4 linked regions of the Homo sapiens genome follow. The protein of the gene in region 4 interacts with the protein of the main gene of each other region in a pairwise test. Each region holds a gene or a part of one and is shown on either strand. Other genes may lie near its edges. The genes, in order: FAM81B, KIAA1217, LMO2 and RINT1.

Evidence for each region.
Region 1: the proteins of RINT1 (region 4) and FAM81B interact in binary tests that used the Homo sapiens proteins (3 or more experiments, as listed by UniProt).
Region 2: the proteins of RINT1 (region 4) and KIAA1217 interact in binary tests that used the Homo sapiens proteins (3 or more experiments, as listed by UniProt).
Region 3: the proteins of RINT1 (region 4) and LMO2 interact in binary tests that used the Homo sapiens proteins (3 or more experiments, as listed by UniProt).

What each region holds. Positions count from the first base shown.
Region 1 is NC_000005.10:95,386,572-95,394,557, reverse strand, and holds the start of FAM81B (protein FAM81B), read right to left. Parts: upstream 3,193-7,986; 5' UTR 3,169-3,192; coding exon 3,045-3,168; intron 1,765-3,044; coding exon 1,661-1,764; intron 1-1,660.
Region 2 is NC_000010.11:24,520,093-24,527,443, reverse strand, and holds part of KIAA1217 (sickle tail protein homolog), read right to left. Parts: intron 7,322-7,351; coding exon 7,191-7,321; intron 5,663-7,190; coding exon 5,515-5,662; intron 3,122-5,514; coding exon 2,680-3,121; intron 1,973-2,679; exon of another isoform or gene 1,882-1,972; intron 666-1,881; exon of another isoform or gene 628-665; intron 1-627. UniProt on the Homo sapiens protein: Required for normal development of intervertebral disks.
Region 3 is NC_000011.10:33,860,932-33,868,282, forward strand, and holds part of LMO2 (rhombotin-2), read right to left. Parts: intron 3,887-7,351; coding exon 3,671-3,886; intron 1-3,670. UniProt on the Homo sapiens protein: Acts with TAL1/SCL to regulate red blood cell development. Also acts with LDB1 to maintain erythroid precursors in an immature state.
Region 4 is NC_000007.14:105,549,152-105,556,502, reverse strand, and holds part of RINT1 (RAD50-interacting protein 1), read right to left. Parts: intron 6,449-7,351; coding exon 6,338-6,448; intron 6,243-6,337; coding exon 6,017-6,242; intron 4,934-6,016; coding exon 4,796-4,933; intron 1,476-4,795; coding exon 1,276-1,475; intron 1-1,275. UniProt on the Homo sapiens protein: Involved in regulation of membrane traffic between the Golgi and the endoplasmic reticulum (ER); the function is proposed to depend on its association in the NRZ complex which is believed to play a role in SNARE assembly at the ER.

The sequences.
Region 1 (7,986 bases), on a different chromosome or scaffold from region 4:
TTCTGCCGTGGAGAGTGTTTTCACTCCTGTTTCCCACTGAAACAGTACTGAGTCCTGAGACCTCACCTACTTCATTGCCAGTTCTTTCCTCCTCACCTTTCCACTGCTCCCTCTGGTCTGTGTGGGGATCTATTTTTGGCATTTCCTCAGCAACCGGTTGGTCCCTCCTTATATGTTTGGAGAGTAGTCCTCTCCAAGTATTTGTGGAATTAAAGTGTATGATGAATACAGTGTCCAAGGGCACTAACTTGTCCTCCTTTCTCCTTCTGAAGTGTAACAATTAGATCTATGTTTTATTTTTATTTTATTAATTTTTAAGTCTTACTTGAAAGACCACAAGTAGCATCTTCTTAAAAACACACCTACAACACACACTATTTAAGTGACAAATGTTAAGCATAACAATGGAGGAATATTTGGAAAAGTATAGAAAAGTTAAAGATACAGAATAAAAATTCTCGCTTGTAATTTTGCTACCTAGAACAAAAGCCACTGATGTTGGCTTTTGGTGCAATTTTTTAAATGTAATTTTTAGGTATCTAAGACAGTATTTAAATTTTTATATCTTTGCTAATTGAACATAAGAGTCAGTTCTGTTTTATCCTCATTCCTATAAGCTAGGATGTTATTATATATAAAAACTGTCTCACAAACAACTTGATGGCCACTATGGGAATTTTTTTACATATATCAGTTTTATCCATTTCATAATAATGCTTTGAATGTTATAGCTTTTTGGTTTTATGGGCTATGAAATACGTTCTTGTATATGACATAATTTTATTTGACATGAATGCCCTATAAAGTGGATATCATTACCTTCCCATTAGTGTAAGGATGACATTAGTTACCTTAAGAAGCTGAAACCCTTATTATGGAAAGAAATTAAGATGACTATTTTTTATAGGTGAGGAGCTTCAGGATCAGAGAAGTACGGGACTTGCCCAAGATCATGTAGATGATGATGATAATCATACTGTAGCCCTTCCTACTTGCTAAGCACTTACTTAAGTGACTCATTCAAACCCACAATAACTTTGTATGATAAGCCTAATTCACCCATTTTACAGAAGAAGAAACAGAGGTTAAGTAATCATTCCAAAGTCCCACAGCTAGTATGTGGTACAGCCTATTATATAATACATACCAAAAATCAATGTTTGATATTGTGCTAGTGCTTTATGTAACAAGTGACTGCATCTGCCTCTTGTTATGTAAATTACAAGGTGTTAAGAGAAGTGCAAAAAAAGTCTAAAAACACTGCTTTAAAAAATGTTCTTTTTAACGGAGAAGATACGACAAGTTCTAATAAAGGAAACATTCTATTTAGCTATACCGGTTTTCATGTTAGAGATAAAGATAAAGTCTGCACCTTGAGTTTATCATGGTTCCTTTTGAATCATCATAAAACATACATAATGATCAACTTAAAAGAATTTTAGCCCCATATATTAAAAATCAGTCTAATTAATGAAATTGTAAATTGAGGTCATTTTTCTTTTCAGCTTGTGTTTTCAGCAGCCATTTTGCCAAGACAGAACAAACAGGAAATGTGGGAGAACTATTCTTCCAGAACTTCTTAAACTCTCTAAGCACTCTAAACTTTAAAGAAGCTGAGCAAAGTATTCTACTTTTAATGTGAATATTGAAAAGTACTTGCTTTCTTTTCTTGGTTATTGTCTGAGCCAGGAAGGGGGCCATCAGGTTCAACTGGCTGTTCCTCTGCAGTCGCAGTTGGAGAGGCACTTTTGTTTACATTTGTATCTAGGTAACCAGAATGCTGAATCAGGTCAGGAACTATGACAAGTGAATTTTTGCAGTGCTGCTAATTTTTTTTTAATTGAGGGCAGTTTCTGTACATATAGCTTGGCTTAAAGGGAGGCTTTCAATTTGCTTTACATTTCCCCTCTCCTCACTTATCCCAATTCTCCCCCATCCCCCCATAACATCTATAGTTAGCTAGAAGAGCATTTCTTTACAGATACTTCTATAAGACCTTTAGAAACTTTTTTAGGATCAGACAGCTCTAAAATAATCAGGAATGTATTTTTTTTAAATTATACTTTAAGTCCTGGGATACACGTGCAGAACATGCAGGTTTGTTACGTAGGTATACACGTGCCATGGTGGTTTGCTGCACCCATCAGCCCATCATCTACATTAGGTATTTCTCCTAATACTATTCCTCCTCTAGCCCCCAACCCCCAACAGGCCCCAGTGTGTGATGTTCCCCTCCCTGTGTCCATGTGTTCTCATTGTTCAACTCCCACTTGTGAGTGAGAACATGTGGTGTTTGGTTTTCCGTTCCTGTGTTAGTTTGCTGAGAATGATGGTTTCCAGCTTCATCCATGTCCCTGCAAAGGGACATGAACTCATCCTTTTTTATGGCTGCATAGTATTCCATGGTGTATATGTGCGGCATTTTCTTTATCCAGTCTATCATTGATGGGCATTTGGGTTGGTTCCAAGTCTTTGCTATTGTGAACAGTGCTGCAATAAACATACGTGTGCATGTGTCTTTATAGTAGAATGATTTATAGTCCTTTGGGTATATACCCATTAATGGGATTGCTGGATCAAATGGTATTTCTAGTTCTAGATCCTTGAGGAATCACCTCACTGTCTTCCACATGGTTGAACTAATTTACACTCCCACCAACAGTATAAAAGCGTTCCTATTTCTCCACATCCTCCCCAGCATCTGTTGTTTCCTGACTTTTTAATGGTTACTATTCTAACTGGCATGAGATGGTATCTCATTGTAGTTTTGATTTGCATTTCTGTAATGACAAGTGATGATGAGCTTTTTCTCGTATGTTTTGGCTGCATAAATGTCTTCTTTTGAGAAGTGTCTGTTCACATCCTTTGCCCACTTTTTGATGGGGTTTTTTTTTCTTGTACATTTGTTTAAGTTATTACTCTGTTGTGCCCAAGCCTTCTGAGGGTCTTCATTGGGATTCATTATTTTGTTTATATGTAATAAGAAACAGAAGAAAGATAGTGAAGTAGGAGAAATTTAGAGACCTCGAATAGTCCATAAGTACCTGAACTCATGATGCTTGCTTTTCCAGCTTTATTTTTTGTAGATTTGATATTTTTGAAAAACAATCTCTGTGATTTTTTTCTTTTTTCTGAGGAAGCCAATGTACCAAGGAATTGTAATTGCATCCTAACTAAGGTCTTCCTGTTTCTGGGGCCTCTTCCCAAGGGTGACTTAGTAGCATTGTGACTGCAGGAAGGATCTATGATGTCAGTGTGGCTGGCCCTCACAACTGAAGTCAGGAAATCCCTGGGATTTAGAAGCTTTGAATGTTTTCTGTAGTGCTCATCATCATACAAATCACTAAGCCTTTCACTTCTTTGTCTCATGGGGTGGGAAGTGGCCATTGTTATACTGATATTTCACACTCTTCTCCTGATTTCATCTTCACAGTTTGAAAAGTGACGAGTTATCATCAAGCTAGACAAAGAGGAAATGAAATGCTGCGGTATGCCCAAATCTTTCTCCAAGTATGTTAGGGAGGAAGCTAACTCTTCTAGGTTAGAAGGGGACTTCACAGATAGTGCAGCACTGATGAAAAGTGACATGGGTCAGAGTTTTACAGAAATGAAAATATTGAACTTTGCCTTTGTAGGGGAAATTTTGTTCAGTTATTTAGCCAAAAGGGGGTGGATTGTTTTAGCTGTAAAATGTTTGTCTGAGTTTTAAAATTAGAATTTGCATGTTTGTTAGTACTACTTGGCCTCCATATACAGAAATGATGCTTTGGCTAAGTTGTTGTCCAAATTATGGTATCAGATTTGCCTTGTTTAAAGGCACACAATGTTCAGGATGCTGAGTGACAAACTTTGATCCCACAGATAAAGGACACCTATGATTTGGGCTTCCATGCATATCCCCTAGTCCTAAGCTAAGCCCTTAAAACTCAAAGATGCAGTAGTTCATGGTTTGCAAGCAGTCCAAAAGGCTCATTATGCTACCCTAATCACCATTGTATCTAGTGCCAAGGGAGACTGACACACAGCAGTGACTAAGAGCAGGTGGCTACAGATTCTGAGAGAGTGGATTGGAACCCTGACTCCTCAACCTACCAGCTGTTTAGTTTGGACAAAATTACATCACCTCTTTAAGCCTCAACTTTCTCCTCTGTGAAATGAGCTAATAATATCGATCCCATAAGATGGTTGAGAGGATTAAATGTAATAATATACTTACAGCGCTCAGCTGAGGGCGGTGCCAGGAATCCACTAAAAGATAACTATTATTAGCGATTATTTCACAAGGTGCCAATTATCCAAGAAACAGTCACAAGCAGAGTCTGTGTGAGAAAGAAAAACTAGATTTAACCTTGCTTAACAACTTTTTAAGATTCTTTCTCTTCTTAAATTCAGCTTTTAATCCATGGTATTTGGTTAGAAAAATGGGCCCTACTAAAATGGACAATTTTGGTAGGTTTGTTCTCTAAACATAAATGGCTATTCAATTTTAACATAACAATGCACATAATATATATGTATATTATTAATGTCTGCTCTGGTTTGAATCTCTCCACCAAAACTCATGTTGAAATGTAATTGCCATTCTTTTTTTTTTTTTTTTGAGTTGTAGTCTTGCACTGTCACCCAGGCTGGAGTGCAATAGTGCGATCTTGGCTCACTGTAAGCTTGGCCTCCCAGATTCATGCCATTCTCCTGCCTCAGCCTCCCAAATAGCTGGGACTACAGGTGCCCACCACCACACTCGGCTAATTTTTTGTATTTTTAGTAGAGACAGGGTTTCATCGTGTTAGCCAGGATGGTCTCGATTTCCTGACCTCGTGATCTGCCCACCTCGGCCTCCCAAAGTGCTGGGATTACAGGCGTGAGCCACCGTGCCTGGCCTATTGCCATTCTAATAGTATTAGGAAGTGGAGGCTTTAAGAAGTGATTAGGTCATGAGGGCTCTCTCCTAATGAATGAATTAAAGCCCTTATTGTGGGAATGAGTTAGTTATCATAGGAGTGGGCTCCTGATAGAAAGGATGAGTTTGGCTTAGTTTATCTCTTTCTGTCTTGCATTCTTATTTCCCTTCTTGCTATGTTATGATGTAATATAAAGATGTATCCTCTCAATCTTGGACTTCCCAGCCTCTGGAACCATGAGCCAAATAAATGCCCAGACTATGGTATTCTTTTTTTAGACAGAGTCTTGCTCTGTTGCCCAGCCTGGAGTGCAGTGGTGCGATCTTGGCTCACTGCAACCTCTGCCTCCAAAGTTCAAGCAATTCTCATGCCTTAGCCTCCTGAGTAGCTGGGACTACAGGTGTGCACTGCCATATCTGACTAATTTTTGTATTTTTAGTGGAGACGGAGTTTCACCATGTTGGCCAGGCTGGTCTCAAACTCCTGACCTCAAGTGATCCACCCATCTCAGCCTCCCAAAGTGCTGGGATTACTGGTGTGAGCCACCATTCCAGGCCCCAGACTATGGTATTCTGTTATAGCAGAAGAAGATGGACTCAAATAGCTTCCCACTTGTCTAAAATGCATATGTAAAATCCTTCTCAGAAGTCAATAATCTTCATATATCTTTTCTAATCTAGGGCTAATAAAAGCACAGAAATTAAAAATGTTCAATTTCAATCTTTAAAGTGGCCTTATACTATAGTATATTTAATATAGATCTAAAGACATAATCCTGACATGGTGGTCAGTGATGGGGGATAGTCAGTGTTGAAGGTCATCAGACAGAAACGCTATGTGTTGTGCACTACACAACCCTCTGGGGCACTCATGGTAACACTGTAGATTTTCATATTTGTTACAGTAATTTTTCAGGCATATATCAAGAAAATATCTCATTTTACCAAAGAAAGTCAGGATAATTTTCTGACATGGAAGTAAAGGGTTTTGAGAAAGCGGCACCTATTTTTAACTCACACAAGGAGTGTACAGTGAGGCACTGTCAATGACCAACTGCATATATGATGGTGGTCCCATAAGATTTTAGTGGAGTGGAAAAATTCCTATTATCTAGTGATGTTGTAGCCATCATAACATTGCAGTGCAATGCATTACTCATGTGTTTGTGGTGATACTGGTGTAAACAAACTTGCTGAACTGCCAGTTGTATAAAGGTATAGCACATGCAATGCTGTACAGTACATAATAGTTGCTAATGATCATAAACAACTATGTTACTGGTTTATGTATTTACTACAGTATACTTGTTATCATTTTTTAAAATTTTTAGTTGACACATAACTGTACATATTTATGGGCTACAGAGTGATATTTAGATACACGTATACAATGTGTAACAACCAAATCAGGGTAATTAGCATATCATCACCTCAATCATTTATCATTTTTTTGTGTTGTGAATATTCAAAATCCTCTCTTCCAGCTTTTTGAAAATATACAGTAAATTATAGTTCACCATTTTCACCCTACAGTGCTGCAGAACATCAGAATCCATTTCTCCTATCTAGCTGTAATTTTGTTTTCATTAACACACTCTCCTCATTCTCTCCTCCCCTTACCCTTCCCAGCCTCACGTTTCTATTCTTTATTTCCATGAACTCAATTTTTTTTTTCTGCCACATGTAAGTAACAACATGCAGTATTTATCTTTCTGTTTTTGGCTTATTTTGCTTAACATAATGTCCTCCAGCCTCATCCACATTGCTGCAAATGACAGGATTTCATTCCTTTGTATAGCTAAATAGTATTCCATTGGGTATATAAACCACATTTTCTTTATCCATTCATCTATTGATGGACATTTAGGTTGAAACCATATCTTAGCTATTGTGAATAGCACTGCAACAAACATGGGAATCTAGGTGTCCCTTTGATATACTGATTTCCTTTCCAGTAGTGGGACTGCTGGATCATATGTTAGTTCTATGTTTAGTTTTTTGAGAAGCCTCTACAGTGATTTCCATATTGACTGTACTCATTCACATGCCCACCAACAGTGCATAAGTGCTCTCTTTTCTCTGCATCCTCACCAGCATTTGTTAACTTTTGTCTTTTTGATAATAGGCATCCTAACTGGGGTGAGGTGGTATCTCATTGTGGTTTTAATTTGTATTTCCCTTATGATTAGTGATGTTGAGCATTTGAGCATTTTTTCATATTTCTTTTGGCCATTTGTATGTCTTCTTTTGAGAAATGTCTTTTTTTTTTTTTTTTTTTTTGGCATGGAGTTTCATTCTGTTGCCTAGGCTGGAGTGCAGTGGTGTGATCTCAGTTCACTGCAACCTCTGCATCCTGCGTTCAAGTGATTCTCCTGCCTCAGCCTCCCTAGTAGCTGGAAGTACAGGCGTGTGCCACCACGCCTGGCTAATTTTTGTATTTTTGGTAGAGATGGGGTTTCACCATATTGGCCAGGCTAGTCTTGAACTCTTGACCTTGGGTGATCTGCCTGCCTCGGCCTCCCAAAGTATTGAGATTACAGGTATGAGCCACTGCACCCGGCGCTTTGCCTACTTTTTAGTCAGATGATTTGCTGCTGTTGAGCTGTTTGAGTTCCTTATATGTTCTGGATATTAATCCCTTGTCAGATGAATAATTTGCCAATATATTTTCTCATTCTAATAGTTGTCTTTTTACCCTTTGATAGTTTTCTTTGCTGTGAAGAAGTTTTTGAGTTAAATATAGTCCTATTTGTCTATTTTTGTTTCCATTGCCTGTGCTTTTGAAGTCTTTAAAATCTTTGCCTAATGTCCTGAAGTGTTTCCCCTATGTTTTCTTCTAGTAGTTTTATACTTTCAAGTCTTACATTTAAGTCTTTAACTTGTTTTGAGTAGATTTTTAAATATAGTGATGGATAGTGTTCTAGTTTTGTTCTTCTGCATATGGATATTCCATTTTCCCAGCACCATTTATTGAAGAGAGTATCCTTTTACCATTATATTGTGCTTGGCACCTTTGTCAATAATCAGCTGGCTGTAAATGTGTGAATTTATTTTTGTTCCATTGGCTTATGTGTCTGTTTTTATAC
Region 2 (7,351 bases), on a different chromosome or scaffold from region 4:
GGAATCCTTCTGCCCTGAGTGAGACATGAGTCTCACTCAATTAAAAAAAAAATTAGGCTGGGCATGGTGGCTCATGCCTATAATCCAAAGTGCTGGGATTACAGGCATGAGCCACCATGCCCAGCCTAAAATTTTTTTAAATTGAGTTTTCATTGTAGAAGAGATGTCCAAGCAAACAAACAAAACCCACAACACTAAGAACAAAAATCCTGTGTCTTAGTACCACTTCTATCAAAGAATTGCTATATGCCCTCTGGGTCACATTGTCCTACTTATAAAATGAGGGAGGAGGTATTATTTAGATGACCTGTAAACTCCTTTAAGTTCCACAACAGAGAGTTATACATAAAATGCATTTTAAAACATCTGCATACTTTTTAAAAGAATGTTTTCTGTGACTTTTGAACCAGCACATTAATAATTCTAAGGGGGCAGAGTGGAAATTCACACCAAGATTAGTGGAACCTTATAACCTAAGAATTGGCAAAGATCATTGAATCAACATATGGGAACTTTGAGGTCCAGCGAGATGGAGAATTTGCCCAAGTTTCATTACATATAAATAATAGCCACCACCTTCACCATTCTAACCCTCCTTTATTTTTTCTTCCTAGCATTTATTACCACCTGGCATATACTTTTTTTCTGTCTCTTCCTACAAGTAGGTAAGTGTCTTGAGGGCAGAGACTTTGTCTCTTCTGTTCACTGGCTTTCCCCCGAGCCTACGAGGGCCTGGTACATAACAGGCTCAGTAATCTCTGTTGAATGAATAAAGCTCACCCCATTTGTCAGTGGCAGAGCTGGCAGAAAAACCCAGGCCTCCATACCTGTGGATCAGGGCATTTTCAGAGATGACTCGTGTCTCCTCTCAAAGCGTAAAATACACACATCACAATGATAACTATGCCCACTAGGTTCTCAACAGAGATTTGTTAAATAAGAGTGCCATCATACTGACATCCTTTAAATGTTGAGATGTTTAAAGTGGCAAGACGTCTTAAGTGACGGATCTGCCAATTCTTAGGAGGAAATGTCTTTCCCTCCCCTGCCCTACTAGGTACTGGGAATAGAATCACACTCTGTCAATCACATTTCTGTACCCTTGTGATATGCGTTTTTAAAATAGCTGGCTCTGATTAGAGGCAAGCCAGGGCCCTTGCGACACAGAGAAACCACCTAGTGTTCAGAGGCCCCGAGGCTGCGACCGTGGCTGTGGCAGTTTTGCCAGGTCGTCTCGATATACCCAACCTGACCTCTCCACTGGTGACTTTCAGTAGAGGCAGGAGGGTTACGACAAGGTTGTTGGGTGATAAAGCAAATGAGTGGAGGAAAAGTTACGAGGCAAGAAGAAAAAAGAAGTAGAAAAGACAAATGTGTTATCGGAGCACTGGTACCAGCCCTTGATAAAAAGAATATTTAAAAACATAATATGTCATTTGATCTTATGATTTTTAAGACAGGGTCTCACTCTGTCGCCCAGGCTAGAGTGCAGTGGCGTGATCTTGGCTCACTGAAGCCTTGACCTCCCTGGGCCTGGGTGATCCACCCACCTCAACCCCCTGAGTAGCTGGGGCTACAGGCACGCGCCACCATGCCCAGCTAATTTTTGTATTTTTTTTGGTAGAGTTGGGACTTTGTCATGTTGCCCAGGCTAGTCTTGCACTCATGTTCCAGTGATCGACCCGCCTCGGCCTCCCAAAGTGCTGGTATTACAGGTGTGAGCCACCACACATGGCCTCATGTCATTTGGTCTTAAGACCTAGTTTTCTCTTTTCATTCTGACTGCTCTACCGTTCATTCTTAGATGACTATAGTAATTTCTCATCCAGCTCTCTTAATTCTAGACCCACCACCTCAATCAATTCTGTACGTTGTTTCTAGATTAATTTCCAGAAGATGCCATTTAAAAAAAATCACGGATTAGAGCTGCAGCATTTCTCTGATACCTTCCAAATAAACTCCAAACATCATGGACTGTTTTTCAAGCACTCAAGTCAGTTTCCAGCCCATTTCCCCAGTCTTAGGTCCTCGTTCTTGTTCCACTTAGACAGGCTTAGTCATGGTCCCAGACTTTGATCCAGCATTTTAGTATCCTAGGATGCCCTCACCACCCTCCCATGCTAACCAGGTTCCACTTATCATCTAGATGTGTGGCAGACCCTCCCCAGGCTGCCTTCACCTCAGTGGAGTGCTTGAAGCCGGCTTGTCCTGGCCCAGGAGAGCTGATTGTTACATTTCTCCCAACTTCAGCAGTAGTGGTGTCATGTCATAACTTGAAATCAGCCATGGTTGCGATATTTACACCATGGAAATTGGCAAATGCCACACACAGATCTGCACGCACCCACTCTGCCCCCCCACCCCGCCGCCACAACCGCTACCAGAGAGCTGGTTGTTAAACATTTACCAGCACACTGCTGTCTCACCTTCCTACAGGCCAGGTGTCTCACCTTCCTACAGGCCAGGTGTCTCACCTTCCTACAGGCCAGGTGTCTCACCCTTCTCTGAAACCACATGACCTATCTCTTAACCTGGCCACTGAATCCCACTTCCACTTCCAAAACCCTGTCTCTGATCCATACACAATCATGTCATCATCTGACCTATAAATGCTTTAAGGGAAAGGTCCATGTATCAGACTCCTTTATGGGGTTATGAGAAACAGAAATAGGACTCTACCTCGATAGACACTGCCCTGTTCTTGGCACTCACACTGTGGATTTCTTCAATGAACAAGCTCTGCATGGCAGACCCATTCATGGGTATCTGTGGGGACTGCGGAGCCTGCGACATCTGCAGAGTGGAGGTTGCTTCCTGGGGGACGGCTGGGGAGCTGGCCACGTGAGGCAAGTTCTGAGCAGGGTTCAGCAGGGCCACGGAGTGCTGGGAGGGCTGGATGACCACAGGGGAGCTCTGCGCGTGGCGAACCATCATGCCGGACAAAGGCACCACTTCCGACTTCGCATCGCCAGGGGCACCTGTGCTGTGGAAGGGCTGGCCGGAGGTGTGGGCTGCCTCCTCCTGACTCTTCAGGACTTCTGCGGCTGTGGCCTTTTCCATAGCCATGTACTGTGCGGCTTGGGCTGCGTCCGTGCCTTTCAGGAGCCCATCAGTGACATGTCTAGGAGAAACCATGCACAGCGGCATTAACCCTCATGTCACTTTCTCATGGTGGTATACTTGCAGGCTATGTCATCCCAAAGCCAGGTGAGAGTCACACATCCCAAAGCTCAGAGTAGCCGCTTAGGGACATGTATAGACATATCCCTTTCTGCTGGTGCAGTTGTGCTCAGACCCTTGCAACTCCATCATTGTTTGGGGGGTGGGTAGAAGAAAATGAATCATGAGTCTAACAGCAGCCTCTCTAACTCCTCCGCCTGATTCTGGCCTATGCAGCCCTCAAATATGCTTAGTTCTAAGCCAAAAGTTTGCTTATTCCCTCCTCCTTTCACTGCCAAGCATCTTGGGTGGGCCGCCCACATTCTAATTCCTTCTGTTTGCTCTTCTGTATCTCAACCTGTTGCTCACTGGCTTCCCCACCTGGATTCAACGAAGTCTTGCCACAAGGTACACAGTGACTCGAAATCTAACGGTCGTGTTTATTCCTCAACTTCCTCTGGTGTTTGGAGTCATTTGAAGCTATATGTCCCTCCCCACCCATGATGTAGTGGAAAAGACAGAGTGTCTGGTGTCAGATCTGTGTTTGAATAGCAGTTAGTTCATGCTTTATATAACGTTGAGAACTTCGCCTCTTTAAGCCTCAGGTGCTTTTGCATAAAATGGAGTGATGAAGATGGGGATGACGATGGTGATGATAATGACTTCCTCAGGACCTGTCGTTAGGACTAACATTAACATTGTAAAGTTATGTGTGAGGCAATGTCAAACATGGTACTTGACCTCTAATTTTTAGTTAGTCCCTCATCCCCTTTTTATTATGTTACTTTTTTTTATTTGAAAAAAGACATTGCATTCTATAACTCTTCTGCTACTCAGTGCTCTTTCTTTTGCTGTTTCTTTTTTTACCCCAATCCCTTAGATTCTTAGAGATCCCCAAGGATTTGTTCTCTCCTTTCCCTATCATTCTGCCTCAACCATCTCTTCCATTTTCTTTTCTTTTAAGAAACAGGGCCTCGCTCTGTTGCCCAGGCTGGAGTGCAGTGGCTCAATCCTAGCCCACTGCAGCCTCAAACTCTTACGTTCAAGAGATCTTCCTGCCTCAGCCTCCTAAGTAGCTGGGACTACAGGTGTATACCACCCTTCCTGGCTAATTTTTAAAATAATTTTTTGTAGAGATGGGGTCTTGCTCTGTCACCCAGGCTGGAGTGCAGTGGTGTGATCATAGCTCACTGCAGCCTTGAACTCCTGGCCTAAGTGATCCTCCCATCTCAGCCTCCTGAGTAGCTGGGATTACGAGCACGTGCCACTGCACCCAGTGATCTTTCCCATTTTCAATAATCATCTCCATGAAGCTGACTTCATGCTCTGTCTCCCAGGCTGGAGTGCAGTGGCACAACCTCGGCTCACTGTAGCCTCCACCTCCTGGGTTCAAGTAATTCTCCTCCCTCAGCCTCCCAAGTAGCTGGGATTACAGGCACGCCACCGCCTGTAATACCTATGGGAATTCACTATGTTGGCCAGGCTAGTCTCCAACTCCTGACCTCAAGTGATCCACCCACCTCAGCTCCCAAAGTGCGGGGATGACAGGTGTGAGCCACTGTGCCTGGCCAGTGAAGGTACTTCTGGCAACACAAATTTTGCATGCATATGTGTTTTCAGTGAGTGTGGAGTCCTGGAATTTTCTTTGCAGTGAAATTCCTGAATGTCTTTTGGTCTTTACTCCACTGTGACCTCTTCGGTGAGCAGGTTTACCTTTGGTAAGGAAGCCTGGCCCAGGCCACTCAAAATGCTTTGTTCCTCTTTTCTAGGTGGGACCAACAGTCTCACAGATACTCCTTCAGGAGGTCATTTAAGAAAGACTTTGTTTACTTCTATTACATTTCTTTGAACTGAATTCATCTATGCCCCTGAAGTGAAGGAGGCTAATAAACTATTTCAATCAATTTTTCAACTTCAAAATGTTATTTTAAAAAACCCACCTTCCGATGATTTTTTTAAAAGAAATGGAGTCTTTCTCTGTTGCCCAGGCTGGAGTGCAGTGGCTCAGTCATAGCTCACTGCAGCCTCATACTCCTGGGCTCAAGGGATCCTTCTGCCTGTACCTCCTGAGTGGCCACCACACCTGGCCTTTCAGATGATTTTAAAACAATGTTTACTGTGTCTATTAATTTTAAACCCTAGGATGGGCTCCACCTAGCAATCCTGTGTTGAAGAATTAGAACCTCAAGCCATATTGCAATAAAAGTTCAAGGGTGAGAAGGACTTGGGGCTTTTCCTCAGGACACTGGATGTGTCCTGGGAGCATGGTGGAAGGCTGAAGTCCCAAACGTCCACTCTCGGTTTCCCAGTGCACCCCTCCGCAGGCCACCCCCAGCACGATGAGGGCCCGGTCACCTCCGCAGCATGGTCAGGACGTCTGTCATGCTGCGCACACGCTTCAGGAGACTGTCCAGCTTGTGTGGCTCCTCCTTCAGAAACCGCACGGCCTCCACTTCTATGCGCAGGATGGCTCGCATCTTGTTTTGTAAGGTTGGAAATTCTCCTGCAGGCCCAAACCAGCAGGTGAATTGGAGGAGAAAAAGCCAGAACGACAACCCTCATCCCGCACTCCGATACTGGACAGAGAAGTGCAGAGTTCACAAGCCACAGGGTGGCTCACACATCTTCAGGTGGCAGTGGGTTAAGAGCACAGAGGAGCATTGGAGAAACTCACCTTGGGCAAGGGTAAAGCTCCTCTAGGCCTGTTTCCTGTCTGTGTATTTGGGATAAAGCCAATTGACCATTAGGGTTATTATTATTACTTTTTAATTTGACTGGCTGACAGGGTCTCACTCTGTCATCCAGGCTGGAGTGCAGTGGCATGATCAGAGCTCACTGGAGCCTCAAACACCTGGGCTCAAGCGATCCTCCTGCCTCAGCTTCCTGGATAGCTGGGACTATTTAGGTGCTGCACACCACCATGCCCAGCTAATTCAACTTTTTTTTTCTTTTTTTGAGATGGAGTCTCCCTCTGTCACCCAGGCTGGAGTGCAGTGGCATGATCTTGGCTTACTGTAACCTCCGCCTCCTGGGTTCAAGTAATTCTCCTGCCTCAGCTGAGTAGCTGGGACTACAGGTTTGTGCCACCATGCCCAGCTAATTTTTGTATTTTTAGTACAGACAGGGTTTTACTCTGTTGGCTAGGCTGGTTTCGAACTCCTGACCTCAAGTGATCTGCCCGCCTCAGCCTCCCAAAGTGGCATGAGCCACTACGCCTGGCCAGAAAAAAAAAAAAAAAAAAACTTTTTTTTTTTTTTTAGAGATGGGGTTTTGTTATGTTTCCTAGGCTGGTCTTGAACTCCTGGCCTCAGGCGATTTTCCTGCCTTGGCCTCCCAAAGTGCTAGGATTGCAGGCGTGAGCCACCGTGCCTGGTTACAGGTTTTTAATTTAATTTAATTTTTTATTTTTTGTTTTTTATTTTTATTTTTTGGAGACAGGGTCTCACTCTGCCACCCAGGCTGCCAGGCTGGAGTGCAGTGGTGCAATGGTGGCTCACCATAGCCTTGACCTCACAGGCTCAAGAGATCCTACCACCTCAGCCTCCTAAGTAGCTGGTACCACAGGCATGCACCACCACACCTGGCTAATTTTTTTTTGTGTGTGTGTGTATATATATATATATATATATATATTTTTTTTTTTTTTTTTTTTTTTTTGGTAGAGATGTGAGTCTCTCTATATTGCCCAGGCTGGTCTTGAACTCCTGGGATCAAGTGATCCTCCCACCTTGTGTTTTTAACGGGTTTGGCACATGCATCCCGGTGCACTGTAAGAGCCTAGCAAATAGAAAGTGTTACTGGAATCATTTAGTGTGAAATCTTACAGCACCCACTCTAATACCAGCTCCAAGAAGAGGGGGATGTGCACCTACTTTGTGCTGTGGGGTATCCCAAGTGTCCAGAACAATGCCTGGCACATGTAGACGTTTAATAAATACTTGCATACATGAATGAATCCTCTATGTGGCAGATTTTTAAACACCGCAGGAAAGACAGCTCAGACTCCTCCCCCGACCCAGCAGAAAGTTTACCTTTCAGGGTAGCTACAGCCTCTCCCACTTGACGCAGGAGGAAAGCCCCGTCTTCCACGTCTTTCAGAGTAACCAATCGGCTGGCTGCCGTGGAGTCCTTCTTCAAGTCTTCAACAAAGTCTTCCAACTCGCTGCGGGAGCAAGGACACCAGCACATAGAG
Region 3 (7,351 bases), on a different chromosome or scaffold from region 4:
AAAGTGCAGTAACACAAGTACCGGAAGCAGAGAAGACCCAGCTTCAATGTCCCGGACCAGCCCTGAGTGACCCTGGAGAGACCTCTGATTCTCTGAGCCTCAGTGAAATGGCAGCCATCATAGGCTCCACCTCACTCAGCTGTTAAAACAACCAAACGAAGCATGTCAGGGCACCCATGGTCAAGGGCTAAGCCAACGCTGGTTATGTTTTAACACATCTTGGGTGTATTCCCAGCTGTGCCAGTCTTGCTGCAGGAAGTAATTTTCACTCGTGGCTGAAAACATAGCATGTTAGCAGGTGGTTTCTACATAAAACCTTTAGGACAGTTTTAGGTGAATGCTTGCTCTTATTGGAAGTTCTGGTTGATTTCAGGATATCAGAGAATCAGTGGGTACATTCTGAGAGGTTGTAGGGGACCTAAGGGCAGTTGACACATTTTGCAATATTTGGGCGAGATTAATGGAATTGACAAGAGGTGGTCTGTGAGTGGAGAGCTCATTGTTCGGGCCAGGGCCAGCTAATTTGCCTCTGAATCCTGCTTTCCATTTGAAGATCTCTGAGTGTTTTCAAAGCACCGCCTGGGAGCAAACTCATTACTGGGGGGAGAACATTTTATCCCAACGTAGCAGATGGTGGAGCTGCAGGTAACCGCCACATTGGAGGTCACAGAGTGGAAAGACAGTTCTGGTTTCCTGACTGCTCTGTAAGTTAAGTTTGGGCCTGAGCAAGGATGAACGACTGAGAAAACAGTGTGCATGGAATGAATCCAACTGCCTGGGGTGTGCGATCCTTAAGGAAGGAGGGAGCTTATTAAAGGGAAGTCAGGGGGTAAATTACAACCCACATCAGGCAGCTATGAAGGGAAGGACAAAGGACGAATATGTGGGAGACAAGTTCAGGTCCCAGCATGACCTCTAACTTGCCAGGTGACCTGAGCAAATGGAGTCCCCTGTACAGGCTTCTGTGACTTAAGCCATAAAGCAAGGGAACTGAAAAAGAAGGTCTCTGTAGCCCCTTCCAGCTCTGGGATTCGGAGATTCTAATATTAGTAAAAAATAAGCCGGGACTTGACACCTAACTTGAGCATTAACCTCTGGCACCAAGAATTGGTATCTTAGGCTGGATATCCCAGAAGCAGCCCCTGAGGCAAGGATTGATGTGCCAGTGATTTATGAATGAGGCATTCTCAGGAAAAACCTGGAAGGCAGCAGGGGAGGCTGGAGGGAAGGGGAGGAAGCCAAGCCAAGTTGTATCCTCAGGCAAAGTCCCTCAGAGGGGAGGGACCCTGGAATATAAGTTATGCCTGGCTCCAGGCAAGGCTGCGGGGCTTGGTACTCCCACCATGTCTGTCACTGGTTAAGGTCCGTTGGGGGTCTAGTTGGGGCAGGCATACTTCTGGCTCTAACAGATTCAGGTGCTGGCTGTTAAAAGCAAAACCACTGCCATCACCGCCACCCCACCACTCCCAGCACACAAGAATTAGTGAAAAGGGATCCAAGGAGATCTGGCTCAGCACAGACATGAACAGCTGCTCTTGGGTTCCCAACAATACAACACAGCAGCAGAGTTGAGGTTCTGCATGGGGGTCTCATGAATGTTTGAAGCTAAATGTCGGAAAAGAACTGTAACAGGCAACTCAGCCATTGGAAATCCTCACGGGGACAAGTTATCCTAGGGGTGAAGAACTCAAACACATTAGAGGGCCCGTTCAGTTACTCCTCCAACTTGCCTTGTTAAAAGATCCTGCCAGATATACTAAGAATGCCAGTAAACAAGACCTTGGCTAAAGGACCATCCCTGACGCAAAAGACAATTTTTCTCCTCTGTCAAGAGATGTCCCATCTTAAGCTCTCTGCTGCCCATTTTAATAACAATAATATAAATATTAAAGAATGGCTGGAAATGCCTGCACTAATGCAGAGTTAATTAACATGTTGCCTAGGAATGTGGCAGGGAGAAGAATTATTTCATGTCACCAAGACACAAGTTAATTAACATTGGGTTCTCCCAGACTGTTTTTTTTTTCCTCTCCTTTTTGAAAATGGAAAGGATTAACAAGCCCAGGCAGCACTGGTTTTATTCCTGAATGTTATATAAAACGGTAGAGATAGGGAGAAGCTGGGGCTCTTCTGACCTTACTCTATCTGCACTTCAGTTAATAAGATTCAAATGATTTGACAGGGATGGAGTCAAGGGTCCGATGGGAATCATTTACCCGTCTGCCCTCTCACTGACTTGGCAAACTGGGAGTGAGCAAAACCAGGTCTGTATTTATCCAAGTTCTATTTTCTGTGACTTAAAAAAAAGAAAACTGACCAAAATTATAAGCATGATCATTGCAAAATCCTACTTATTTTCTCGGAACCACCATATCTGCAAGGACTGCAAGAACTTTATCTGGGAATTCAAGGACAAAAAGCTTCTTCTAACAGTCTTTAGGTAAAGCTTCCTTCACTGTGAAACTGCCTGCAGTTTTTTTGGTTTTGTTTTGTTTCTATAATGTAAAATGCTCTGAGGGCAGGTTTGGGAGGAAAAGCTGGCCCAGCAGCCAAGGGCGCTGAGGTCTCAACAAGCTTCCATGGGTTGGATGGTCCTGGTGTATCAGGGAAGCATGCTTCACAGACCCTCTGCTCCAGGAAAACGGAGAAATACTGACAGCTACACAGTTGAGCAGATCTGACAGTAGAGGGCACAGAGACAGTTACCTCCACAGCAGCTCATCGGAAACTAGAAACACTAGTACATTCTAGGCAAAGGCTTTCACACAGTGCTGGAAAATTCGGATGGCCAATAGGATGGCCCAGAGCATGGGAGATGTCCTCAGCTCCTGTCTTACTTGGTGTTGTCGAGTTCCTATTTTACTCTTCCATTCTTCCATCCCTTTGCTCATTAGATTGGAAAATAATGATTATGTAAGAGCAGCTAACATCTATTTGATCCATACCAAGCCAAGTAGTTTATCTGCATTATTCCATCAAATCCTCCCCACATCCTTAGAGGTAGGTGCTATTATCATCCCCATTTTACAGATAAGGAAATCGAGGCTTAGGAAGGTTAAATAACTTGCCCAAGGCCACCAAGCTGGGAAGCAATGGTATTGGGACTCAAACCTCCAACTGCCTACAGGGCCTTTGCCTTTCTGCTCTTCGAAGACTGCCTTCCTGCTATGAGTCAATGCTTGGAGCTCCATATGCTTTCTATTTTTAAATTTCTCATCATATAATACTGGAGTCATACAAAAAAAATTTATAACATACATATATGTTCTGAAGCATTCAAATGAGGTCCTCAGAGCCCACCTCCAAACTTAGAAACACTCCCAGTCCCTCTGATCCTCCGTGTGTACTCCTCCTCAATCCCATCCCCTAGCTTCTCCCGCTCCCCAAGGGAAGCACTTTTCTGAATTTTGGGTATACAATTCTCTTGCCTTTAAAGATATTAGTATTTTACCACATAGGAACGTAACCCTGAGAACATGCTTCTCAAACAGGAAGAAATGCCCTCTGCTTCTCAGCACAGGAGCTGAGACTCAGCCTCTGCAGTCTGACCTCTTTCTATAGGTGGTGTCCGAGCCTGGAGCAGGGTAAGGGGCAACACACACCGACTGCAGATGTCCATGGACCACCCAGCCTCCCTTCCGAGGGCCCAGTGGAGTGCCGGGGAGGGTACCTGAGATAGTCTCTCCGGCAGAGCTTCCGGCCCAGTTTGTAGTAGAGGCGCCGCCCCACCTCACCCAGCCGGCAGCCACAGAGGTCGCAGCTCAGGCAGTCCTCGTGCCAGTACTGGTCGATGGCCTTCAGGAAGTAGCGGTCCCCAATGTTCTGCTGGCAGCCGCCGCATGTCAGCAGGGATGGGGGGATCTGCAGCACCTCATCCACTGGTTCCCTGGAGAGAAGGCCAAGCATCAGGGACAGCCTCACCAGAGTGAGACCAGCACCGAGGGTCCGAGATCGTTTTGGGCCAGACAGGGCATCTCACCTGACTGCCTTTCAGTGACCTAAGGGAGAAGGGACAGGACAACACATCCCTTGGCCAGACTGCAGAGTCCCAACCAACCTTGGGTTAAGACGGGAAAGAGCCAGACCTTACTCCCTAGATGTCTAAGAAGTAAACACAGGGCACCAAGAGGCATCAAAGGCAATTGCAGGTGGCACTGTGCCCCTGCCCATGCCCAGCACTACCTGGGCACCTCTGGTCTCCTTCTGCTTTTTCCCACTCTCCCCGCTGACTCTATCTTCACAGATCTCCCTCATTTTCCTCCTCCCATAACCTGGACACCCAAGGGCACTGCCTAACCTCAAAGGACGCACTCTGGACTAAAAGAGTCGCTCACTGCCAGGGCAGCAGATGACCCAGAGTGCTAAGAATCTGCAAATCCCCAGTGCCATCCTCCCTCCAGCCCTAACCAACTGCACAAAAGCAGAGGTGAGGAAGAAAGAAGAATGAGACCAAAAATTATTTTAGGTTGCTTTCTCTTTCCAAAATCAAAATTCCATCAGGACATAATAGGAATTCTCCTAATTTTACTTTTTTACAGAAATTCCATTTTCCATTCTTCCTACTGAAGGAATACTTGGAGGAAAATCCCATATCGTAAGGCCATTGTTACACGAAGGACATCAAATAGGCCTTTCTTTCCTTACCTGAACATTTTTATAAGAGTAAAATTGATTTGGATAAAGTTGATTTGAGGAAGAAAATGAAGTGGGGGCAATGATTATTTCAAAGAGAGTGGAAGGCAATTAAACAGACACTGACATCTCAATCCAGCAATTGTTAATAGGCTGTGACACGTGTTCTTTCGTTAATACGCCATGCATAGCATCTCCTGTTCACTTTGCTTCACTGGAATCTGAATACATTTTTACATTTAAAAATAAATAACTTTGCTAAAAGAAAATAAAGGAGTGGAAGGAATTATTCTAGTGTCCCCCACATGGGACACAGCAAACACTTAATACGTGTTGATTTATAATAATTAGCAAGTGTTCTCTGGAACCTTACTTAAACACAAATCTATTTCTTAAAAATCTATTATGTTTCAAAAAACAGACCTTCTTCCATCTGTAAAATTCCCAAAGGGAGTTTCCTCCTGGGTACCCTGCAGGTATAAATCCATGTCTCCTATTTCTAACTGGTACTAACTTACCAGGCGACCTTGTGTCCTAATTGGTCTGTGCCCATAAAGCCCAGCAGCCATTATACTTGGGGACAGGAGGCTAGGTGGCTCAATGTCTATAACACTCTGACAACTTCAGGTGATCCCGTCATGTGAAGTATGAAGTGTTCCTTATGAATATTTAGGAGTGCTAAAGCCATGCCCACACTTTCTAGACACAGTGTAACAGCACTTCATGAGACTATCATCTTTGGAACAAGAAAATGGGAAGCTCAAGTTAGTTTATCTGGGGAAAAAAAATGGCCAGGTACAGTGGCTCACGCTTGTAATCCCAGCACTTTGGGAGGCCAAGGCAGGAGGATCACTTGAGCCCAGGAGTTTGAGGCCAGCCTGGGCAACGTGGCAAAATCCTGTTTCTACAAAACATATAAAAAATTGCCCAGGCTTGGTGGCATGAGCCAGTAGTCCCAGCTACCCAGGAGGCTGAGGTGGGAGGATCATCTGAGCCCAGGAAGTTGAGGCTGCAGTGAGCACTGCACTCTAGACTAGACAACACAGTGAGACCCTAGCTCAAAAAAATTCAAAACTATAGTTTTTTGTTTGTTTGTTTTGAGACACAGTTTCACTCTTATTGCCCAGGCTGGAGTGCAATGGCACAATCTCGGCTCACTGCAACCTCCACCTCCTGGGTTCAAGTGATTCTCCCGCTTCAGCCTCCCGAATAGCTGGGATTACAGGTGTCCACCACCAGGCCCAGCTAATTTTTTTTATTTTAAGTAGAGACGAGGTTTCATTCACTGAAGCCTTGCTTTCTTTCCTTTGTTTCTACAGATTGTATATAAGGACTGCCATTTCCCCTTCTAATAACTAATACCCTAGCTTTTTCATGTGTATCAACTCAGAGTTGCATCTCTTCTCTTTCCACAGCCCATGGTCTTACTCTGGGCTTTCAAAACCACTCATGGAACCTGGACGCACATTGGATGTCCCGATGTTGATGCTGCCAAAGGACTGTGAAAGAAGAGAATTTGCCCTTAGCTGGTGCAAAACTGCCTGGAATTCAAATGAACTGCTCTTGTTACTCACAGGGGAGGCAGTGGGGGCCACCAGTAGCACAGCAAGGGAATCTGTGTTCATGAATTCTGGCTGGCTTTCTGTCCAAATGTTTCATTTGCATATAGCTAGGCAAGTCTCCATCTGTAATTTGGAGATGCTGATTGTAATGACCCAAGCTGGATTTGAGGAAGTACACAATGAAGCATCTAGTAGGATACTGGACAACAGGAGGAATGTAAAGTAAAAGAGTTACGGTGATGGCCTGAGATGAGATGGAGAAGTAAAGTATAAGATATTGGCTCTGTCTTTCTATACTTAATTAATGATAATATCACATTATACTTAGTGGACAATCCAAGACAATGACTGAATTAGATTGATTCACCCTCAAATTAATATTTTATATTCTCCCAGACCCTTATCTTGAATATTACACCTGAGTATCATTTAAGCCTGGATTTCTGGGACAATCATAACAATTTCTAAGGGCATGGGGAGAATGTGCTGCAGCAATTTCTCAACTGGCTTGTCCCTCTTTGATCAGAATCTGTCTTCGTTGGGCAAATAGTGAAGTGAAGGAAGGAGCTGGTGAGCCTCCAGCAGTAGATATCTGTTGTATTAGGAAGTTAGGATGTTTCAGTTTCTAACCTCAGTGAAAAAGCACAAACTTTGAAAGAAGCAAACTTCCTTCAGGGAAATGAAACCTTCAGATTAATCTTCTATTGAAAGGATTAGTGACTAAATTCTGCTGATCAAAAAGGCATGAGGCACCAATTCATCCAATTCACTCCCTTATTGTGTTACTATGATCTTGCCCAGTCTCTGAAACTCAGAGCTCAGTTTTAAGTTTATTTTAAAAAAGTGATCAAACCACCCTTTAAACCCATTGTTTGCATAAACATACTTTTAAAAAGGAATGTTATTTTTCTCCTGAGAATTTGTTGAAGGAAGTGGGGGTTTTTGTTATAACAAACCTAGCTCATTACAGAACTGGTGTCTTAACCTTCAAGACTGAATAGTGATGTTTATATTCTCATTGGATGGTGGTACTTCCTGTGTTTTATGAGAATATGTTGAGCTTTTATGCTGGTAACTGAGGGTAAAACCCAGGTAAATAAACACCATAGAAAGCCGAAATTGAAGGGTGTATGTGTGTGTGTGCGGTATTTCAAGCA
Region 4 (7,351 bases):
GATAAATACTAATATATATCTCTCTATATAAATATTACCATGAAATATGATATCTGAGATCTGCTTCAAAATAATCAAGTATTGGGGGGCAGAAAAGAGGTTTAAATAAAACAAAATTGGTGTAAGAAGTTGAGTGAGCTGGGCATGGTGGCTCACACCTATAATCCCAGCACTTTGGGAGGCAGAAGCAGGTGGATCACCTGAGGTCAGGAGTTTGAGACCAGCCTGGCCAATAAGGTGAAAACTCGTCTCTACTACTAAAAAAAAAATTAGCCAGGCATGGTGGCGGGTGCCTGTAATCCCAGCTACTCAGGAGGCTGAGGCAGGATAATCCCTTGAACCCAGGAGACAGAGGTTGCAGTGAGCCGAGATCGCACCATTGCACTCCAGCCCGGGCAACAAGAGCGAAACTCTGTCACAAAAAAAAAAAAAAGAAGTTGAGTGATAGCCACGCCACAGAAGTTCATTTTCCTATTCTATTTACTCTTGCATATATTTGAAAATTTGATACATGAAATGTTAGTTTCTTATTTTTATTTTTTGTAGAGACAGGGTCTCACTATGTTGCACAGCTGGTCATGAATTTCTGGGCTCCAGTGATCCTCCCACCTCAGCCTCCCAAGTAGCTCGGACTACAGGCATATGCCACCACACCTGGCTAATTTTATTTTATTTTTTATTCTTTGGAGAAATGGGGTCTCCCTATGTTGCCCAGGTTGGTCTCCAACTCCTGGGCTCAAGCAATTCTCCCATCTCAGCCTCCTAAAGTGCTGGGATTAAGAGCATGAGCCACTGCACCCAGCCAAATAGATTTTTAATGTATGAAACAATTAAAACTTTAAATGTTTCTTCCTATTTTCATGACTCTTTATAATCTGTCATGTTTTGAAGACATTCAAGAGGTATTAAACATTATTCTTTTATTTTCCTTAAAGTCCTGGATTGCTTTTGACATCATTATTTAATCTTAGCTCTTCCTGTGATTGCAATTACCATACATGAATATTTCCAAGTATGGTTCACTCTATAAACAACTATTTCATGAAAGGCTTGCTTGCCTTTCCAATGATTAAATACATTAAAATATCAGGACTATTTAACTACTTGAGATTTGATTGAGAAAAATGTGTATTTTAATTACACCTTTTAATTATGGCACTATGGTTCTGTCTAGCATGTTTATTTTTGCTTGCAATAGATTCAACATTTTGAAAAGTATTAATAAAATAGTTCGAACTAGTATATATTACTTAATATAAAAGCATATTAACTCACAACATTGTCAGCCCAATCTGCTAGTACTGTTGAGATGTAGTTCACAGCATTAAGAATTGCACAGTATCGAAAGCCAAGGGAAGCTCTAGTCTCTTCTTTCATCACTTGTGTTAATCGTATCCTAAAATCATCTACTAAGTCCTTCTGTAACTCCAGGAACTGAAGCTTTCGGGAAGCTGTGGGAAGATTTTTATACCTGTCTGTGGAAAAAGTTATTAAGACATATGAAGGTTTTGGTACCATCTATGATATAGTTATAAGTTTTCCCTACTGTCCTGCTTCAGTGCTTTTGTCAAAAATCAATTGACCAGTAGTCAAGAATGGATTTATTTCTGAGCTCTCTTAAGGATGTGAGTTTCAAAAGTATATACATTTGCCAAAACTCATTGAACAATACAAATAAGATCTGCACATTACACTGTATGTAAACTATACCTCAAGTTTTCAAAAAGGCAAATGAAAAAATTATACATAAAAATGACAGTTTTGGCCAGTCGTGGTGGCTCACGCCTGTAATCCCAGCACTTTGTGAGGCCAAGGCAGGTGGATCAACTGAGGTCAGGAGTTCAAGACTAGCCTGGCCAACATGGTGACACCTCATCTCTACCAAAACTACAAAAATTAGCCGGGCAGTAGTGGCGTGTGCCTGTAATCCCAGCTACTTGGGAGTCTGAGGCAGGAGAATTGCTTGAACCCGGGAGGTGGAGGTTGCAGTGAGCCAACATGGCACCACTGCTTTCCAGCCTAGGCAACAGAGTGAGACTCCATCTAACAAAAAAAAAAAAAGAAAGAAAAAAAAATGACAGTTTCTTCAACACAAATAAACAGCATTTTTTTAAAAAAGAAAGAACTTCAATAAATTAAAAGATACACATTTAAGAATTTACAGGCAGTTGGCCGGGCACGGTGGCTCACACCTGTAATCTCAGCACTTTGGGAGGCCGAGGTGGGTGGATCACGAGGTCAGGAGATCAAGACCATCCTGGCTAACACAGTGAAACCCTGTCTCTACTAGAAATACAAAAAAATTCGCCGGGCACAGTGGCTCACGCCTGTAATCCCAGCACTTTGGGAGGCTGAGGCGGGTGGATCACGAGGTCAGAAGATCAATACCATCCTGGCTAACACGGTGAAACCCCATCTCTACTAAAAATACAAAAAATTAGCCGAGTGTGGTGGCGGGTGCCTGTAGTCCCAGCTACTCGGGAGGCTGAGGCAGGAGAATGGCGTGAACCCGGGAGGCAGAGCTTGCGGTGAGCTGAGATGGCGCCACTGCACTCCAGCCTGGGCGACAGAGTGAGACTCCATCTCAAAAAAAAAAAAAAAAAAAAAAAAAAAAATTAGCTGGGTATGGTGACGGGTGCCTGTAGTTCCAGCTACTCAGGAGGCTGAGGTAGGAGAATGGTGTGAACCCAGGAGGTGGAGCTTGCAGTGAGCCGAGATTGCGCCACAGCACTCCAGCCTGGGCGACAGAGCGAGACTCTGTCTCAAAGAAAAAAAAAAAAGACAATTTACAGGCAGGCATGGTGGCTCACGCCTGTAATCCCAGCACTTTGGGAGGCCGAGGCAGGTGGATCACCTGAGGTCAGGAGTTCGAGACCAGTCTGGGCAATATGAAACCCCATCTCTAGTAGAGCCGCCACCATGCCTGGCTAATTTTTTTGTATTTTTAGTAGAGACGGGGTTTCACTGTGTTAGCCAGGATGGTCTCGATCTCCTGACCTCGTGACCTGCCCACCTCAGCCTCCCAAAGTGCTGGGATTACAGGTGTGAGCCACCGTGCCTGGCCAACTGCCTGTAAATTTTTGTATTTTTAGTAAAAATACAAAAAAAAATTAACCAGGCATGGTGGCAGGCATCTGTAATCCCAGCTACTCAGGAGGCTGAGGTAGGAGAATTGCTTGGACCCAGGAGGCGGAGGTTGCAGTAAGCCGAGATTGCGCCATTGCACTCCAGCCTGGGTGACAAGAGCGAAATTCTGTCTCAAAAAAAAGAATTTACAATTGACATGATGAGATGTCTGAAATTTTCTTTGAAATACTCCAGAAAAAAAAAATTGAGGAGTAAAATATAACAGAAAAGTGATAATTGCTTTAAACTTTGGCAATAGGTACCTGAGAGTTCATCATATTATCCTACTTTTGTGTATGTTTGAAAATTTTCTGAATAAAAAGTTTTTAAGAGACATGAATTTTCCTTAATTTTTTTGTCTTAGTATTTTTCATATTTTTCTTATAGTTAAAAATATGGAATGATGACTGGGCACGGTGGCTCATGCCTGTAATCCCAGCACTTTGGGAGGCCGAGGCAGGTGGATCACAAGGTCAGGAGTTCAAGACCAGCCTGGCTAAGATGGTGAAACCCCGTCTCTACTAAAAATTCAAAAATTAGCTGGGCGTGGCAGCAGGTGCCTATAATCCCAGCTACTTGGGAGGCGGAGGCAAAAGAATTGCTTGATCCTGGGCAGCAGAGGTTGCAGTGAGCCGAGATCATGCCACTGCACTCCAGCCTGGGTGACAGAGTGAGACTCCATCTCAAAAAAAAAAAAAAAAAAAAAAAAAGGAATTATTTACTGACTGGGCTGGAATGATACTTCTTCAGGTTACCAGACAAGCCTAAGAAACGGACAGGCTAGTGGTTGACGAAGGTGAAGAGGGCCAGGGATGGTGGCAATGAGGGTCCAGTGGCACCTGGACAACAAGCAGGCCCACAAGGGGGCAACGTGATTGGCTAAAGACCAACCAGGGCCAGAGGATGCTAGGCTACCCTCCAGCCAGAGAATCCCTGCACTGTAACAAAAGTTCCTATTACTACTCCAATCCTTAAAATTACTTCATTATTTTACTCTCTTCTGCAATCTTTGATAAATCAAGATCAAGACAATATTTAAAATATAGGCCAATCACCATTTACTGAAGACACCTAAAAAGCCCAATAGCAAGACAGTTTGGATAATAAAATTAAATTCCTATTTAATTGTTTTTGTGTAATTATTCAGGAAGTTTTCCTTCATGTATACCAATGTTTAAATCCTTAAATTATTAAAAACCCAAAAGTTAGAATATTGTGTTAGATTTCTACCAATATAGAAACTGAATTTGAAGATAACAACCATCATATAATATTAATTTGCTGAGCCACTTATTTATTGATTACTTTATTGACAGGGTCTCACTCTGTCACCAAGGCTGGACTGCAGTGGCGTGATCATGGCTCACTGCAACCTCTACCTCCCATGCTCAAAAAATCCTCCCACCTCAGCCTCCCAAGTAGCTGGGACTACAGGCACACACCACCACAACTGGCTAATTTCTGTATTTTTTCGGAAGAGAGGGCATTTCACCATGTACCCCAGGCTGTTCTCGAACTCCTGGGCTCAAGCAACCTGCCCGTCTCAGCCTCTCAAAGTGCTAGGATTACAGGCATGAGCCACTGCACCCAGCCTACTGAGCTACTTTAAAAACTACCACGTGAAAACAGTACTTTTAAAACAAAGTCATATCTTAAAAGACATACTTACCAGTTATAACCAAGAGTAGAGTCATAAAAGTTTCTGCACAATCTGGAACTTTCATTTCATCCACGTCAGTGATATCCTTATATTGCGATACCCAGGCAGCTTCTGAGGAAAGCATTGAGTCCATTTTTTGAAGAGCAACTGATAAGCAGACAAAACAATTATGTCAATTAAGTAGTTACAGTCGTTCCTAATTATTCAACTTGTAATTTTTTAGGAATGATGGCTTTTCTATAAAAAAGAAACAAACCTACAATATCCCACTGGTTGTACTAAATTTAACTTAATTAATGCTTTAAACAGGATACTTTACTCCCATCCCCAAATTCTGAAAATAGTTATGTTGACTAGATAAGCTACAGTAAAAAATATTCTATTGGCCAGGCACGGTGGCTCACACCAGTAATCCCAGCACTCCAGGAGGCCAAGGTGGGTGGATTGCTTGAGTCTAGGAGTTCACAACCAGCTTGGGCAAAACCCCAGGGAAACCCCATCTCTACAAAAAATACAAAAAGTAGCCAGGCATGGCTTGCATATACCTATACTCCCAGCTACTGGGGTGGCTGAGGCAGGAGGATCACCTGAGCCCCAGAGGTCGAGGCTGCAGTAAGCCATGATCGGCCCACTCCACTCTAGCCTCGGTGACAAAGTGAGACCCTATCTCAAAAATAAAAAAATAAAATATTCTGACACTTTGGGAGGCCAAGGCAGGTGGATTACTTGAAGTCAGGAGTTCCAGACCAGCCTGGCCAACATGTTGTAACCCTGTCACTCCTAAAAACAGAAAAATTAGCCAGGCGTGGTAGTGCGTGCCTGTAATCCTAACTACTCGGGAGGCTGAGACAGGAGAATCGCTTGAACGCAGGGGGTGGAGGTTGCAATGAGCTGAGATCAAACTACTGCACTTTAGCCTGGACAACAGAGCAAGAGTCTGTCCCAAAATAAATAAATAAAAATAAAATAAATTATATGATAAAATCTATAAAACAAACACCCCACTGGCTTGACTATTCCACTCTAGAAATATGTAGAGTGTAATTTCAGGAAAAATGGAAGTTTCATGTGAAGTAAAGAAAAGATTATCTCTGAAGGAAACAGAAAACCCTGAAAAGGAAATTTCAAATGGCTCTAGTTCCTATTTAGAACTGGAGAAGAAAAATATCAAAAATGTATACCCACAGAAACAGACATATCTCCCTACCATCTGGCCACATCAGCACTTACATTTTCTCTCCACCGTCAACCATCTCTGAAAACAGGTTTCCTCTGATAGAATATGCATACAACTAGCAAAAGTGCCAGGATAGCCATGAACACTGTGTAGCTCCCTTTCAAACAAGAGTACTTCATCCACCAAATGACAGAAGAGATTGTCATCATATAGCAGACAAGGAATATCAGTGGCTAACTTCTCAAGAACCAGCATCATAAGGCCCCGAGAAAATTCAAGCTAAAAAAATACACAAACATGAGGTATGTAAATAAAAAGTTATCCATGCACACATACAGTTCTAAAACAGAAACACTTATGACTGAGTCTCTTACCCTTGCGTTTACCAAAGAGCCTACTTTGTCTAATATTGGCTGAATCTTCTCATCCAGAAATTCAGTATGGTTTCCAATCCACATAAGTACTTGAGCCAAGTACCATTCTGGCTAAGGAAGGAGGAAAATAGTTTGAATTCTTAAGTCATTCCAATTAGAAAGTTACAATTACATGGTTCTATTTAATTGTATATGCACAACACTTATAAAAATTAGTTGAAAATTCCTGTATGTAAGAGCACAATTTCTACTCCAAATTTTAAACTCCTGCAAGGCTTAATAATCAAATGTTTGCTAATGTACTCCCAACAAATTTCAATAATATGACTTAAGTCAATAAACTCATAAATTTACAATGCCATATATATTTAAAACCTAGCACTTCAATAATATGTAAAATGATGAGTATTACAAAGAACTGATGGCCTATATTTTTTGAAATAGCATTTGAAAATAATTTTAATATTATTTTCTTATGGTTTTTATTTTCAAAAAGTAAATCAAGAAAAAAATTGCTGGCCAGGCGTGGCAGCTCATGCCTGTAATCCCAGCACTTTGGGAGGCCGAGGTGGGTGGATCAGCTGAGGTCAGAAGTTCAAGACCAGACTGGTCAACATGGTGAAACCCCGTCTCACCTAAATATACAAAAATTAGCTGGGCGTGGTGGTGGGCACCTGTAATCCCAGCTACTCAAGAGGCTGAGGCAGGAGAATCGCTTGAACGCGGGAGGCAGAGGTTGCAGTGAGCCGAGATCACACCATTGCGCTCCAGCCTGGGCAACAAGAGTGAAACTTCGTTCCAAAAAAAAAAAATTGCTAGTCTGCATTACAAAAACTACGCATGTCTTATACAGGTTTAAGAGCAGAAATACCAAGTACATGCCAGGCGCAGTGGCTCACTCCTGTAATCCCAGCACTTTGGGAGGCTAAGTCAGGTGGATCACCTGAGGTCAGGAGTTCCAGACCAGCCTGACCAATATGGTGAAACCCATCTCTACTAAAATTACAAAAATTA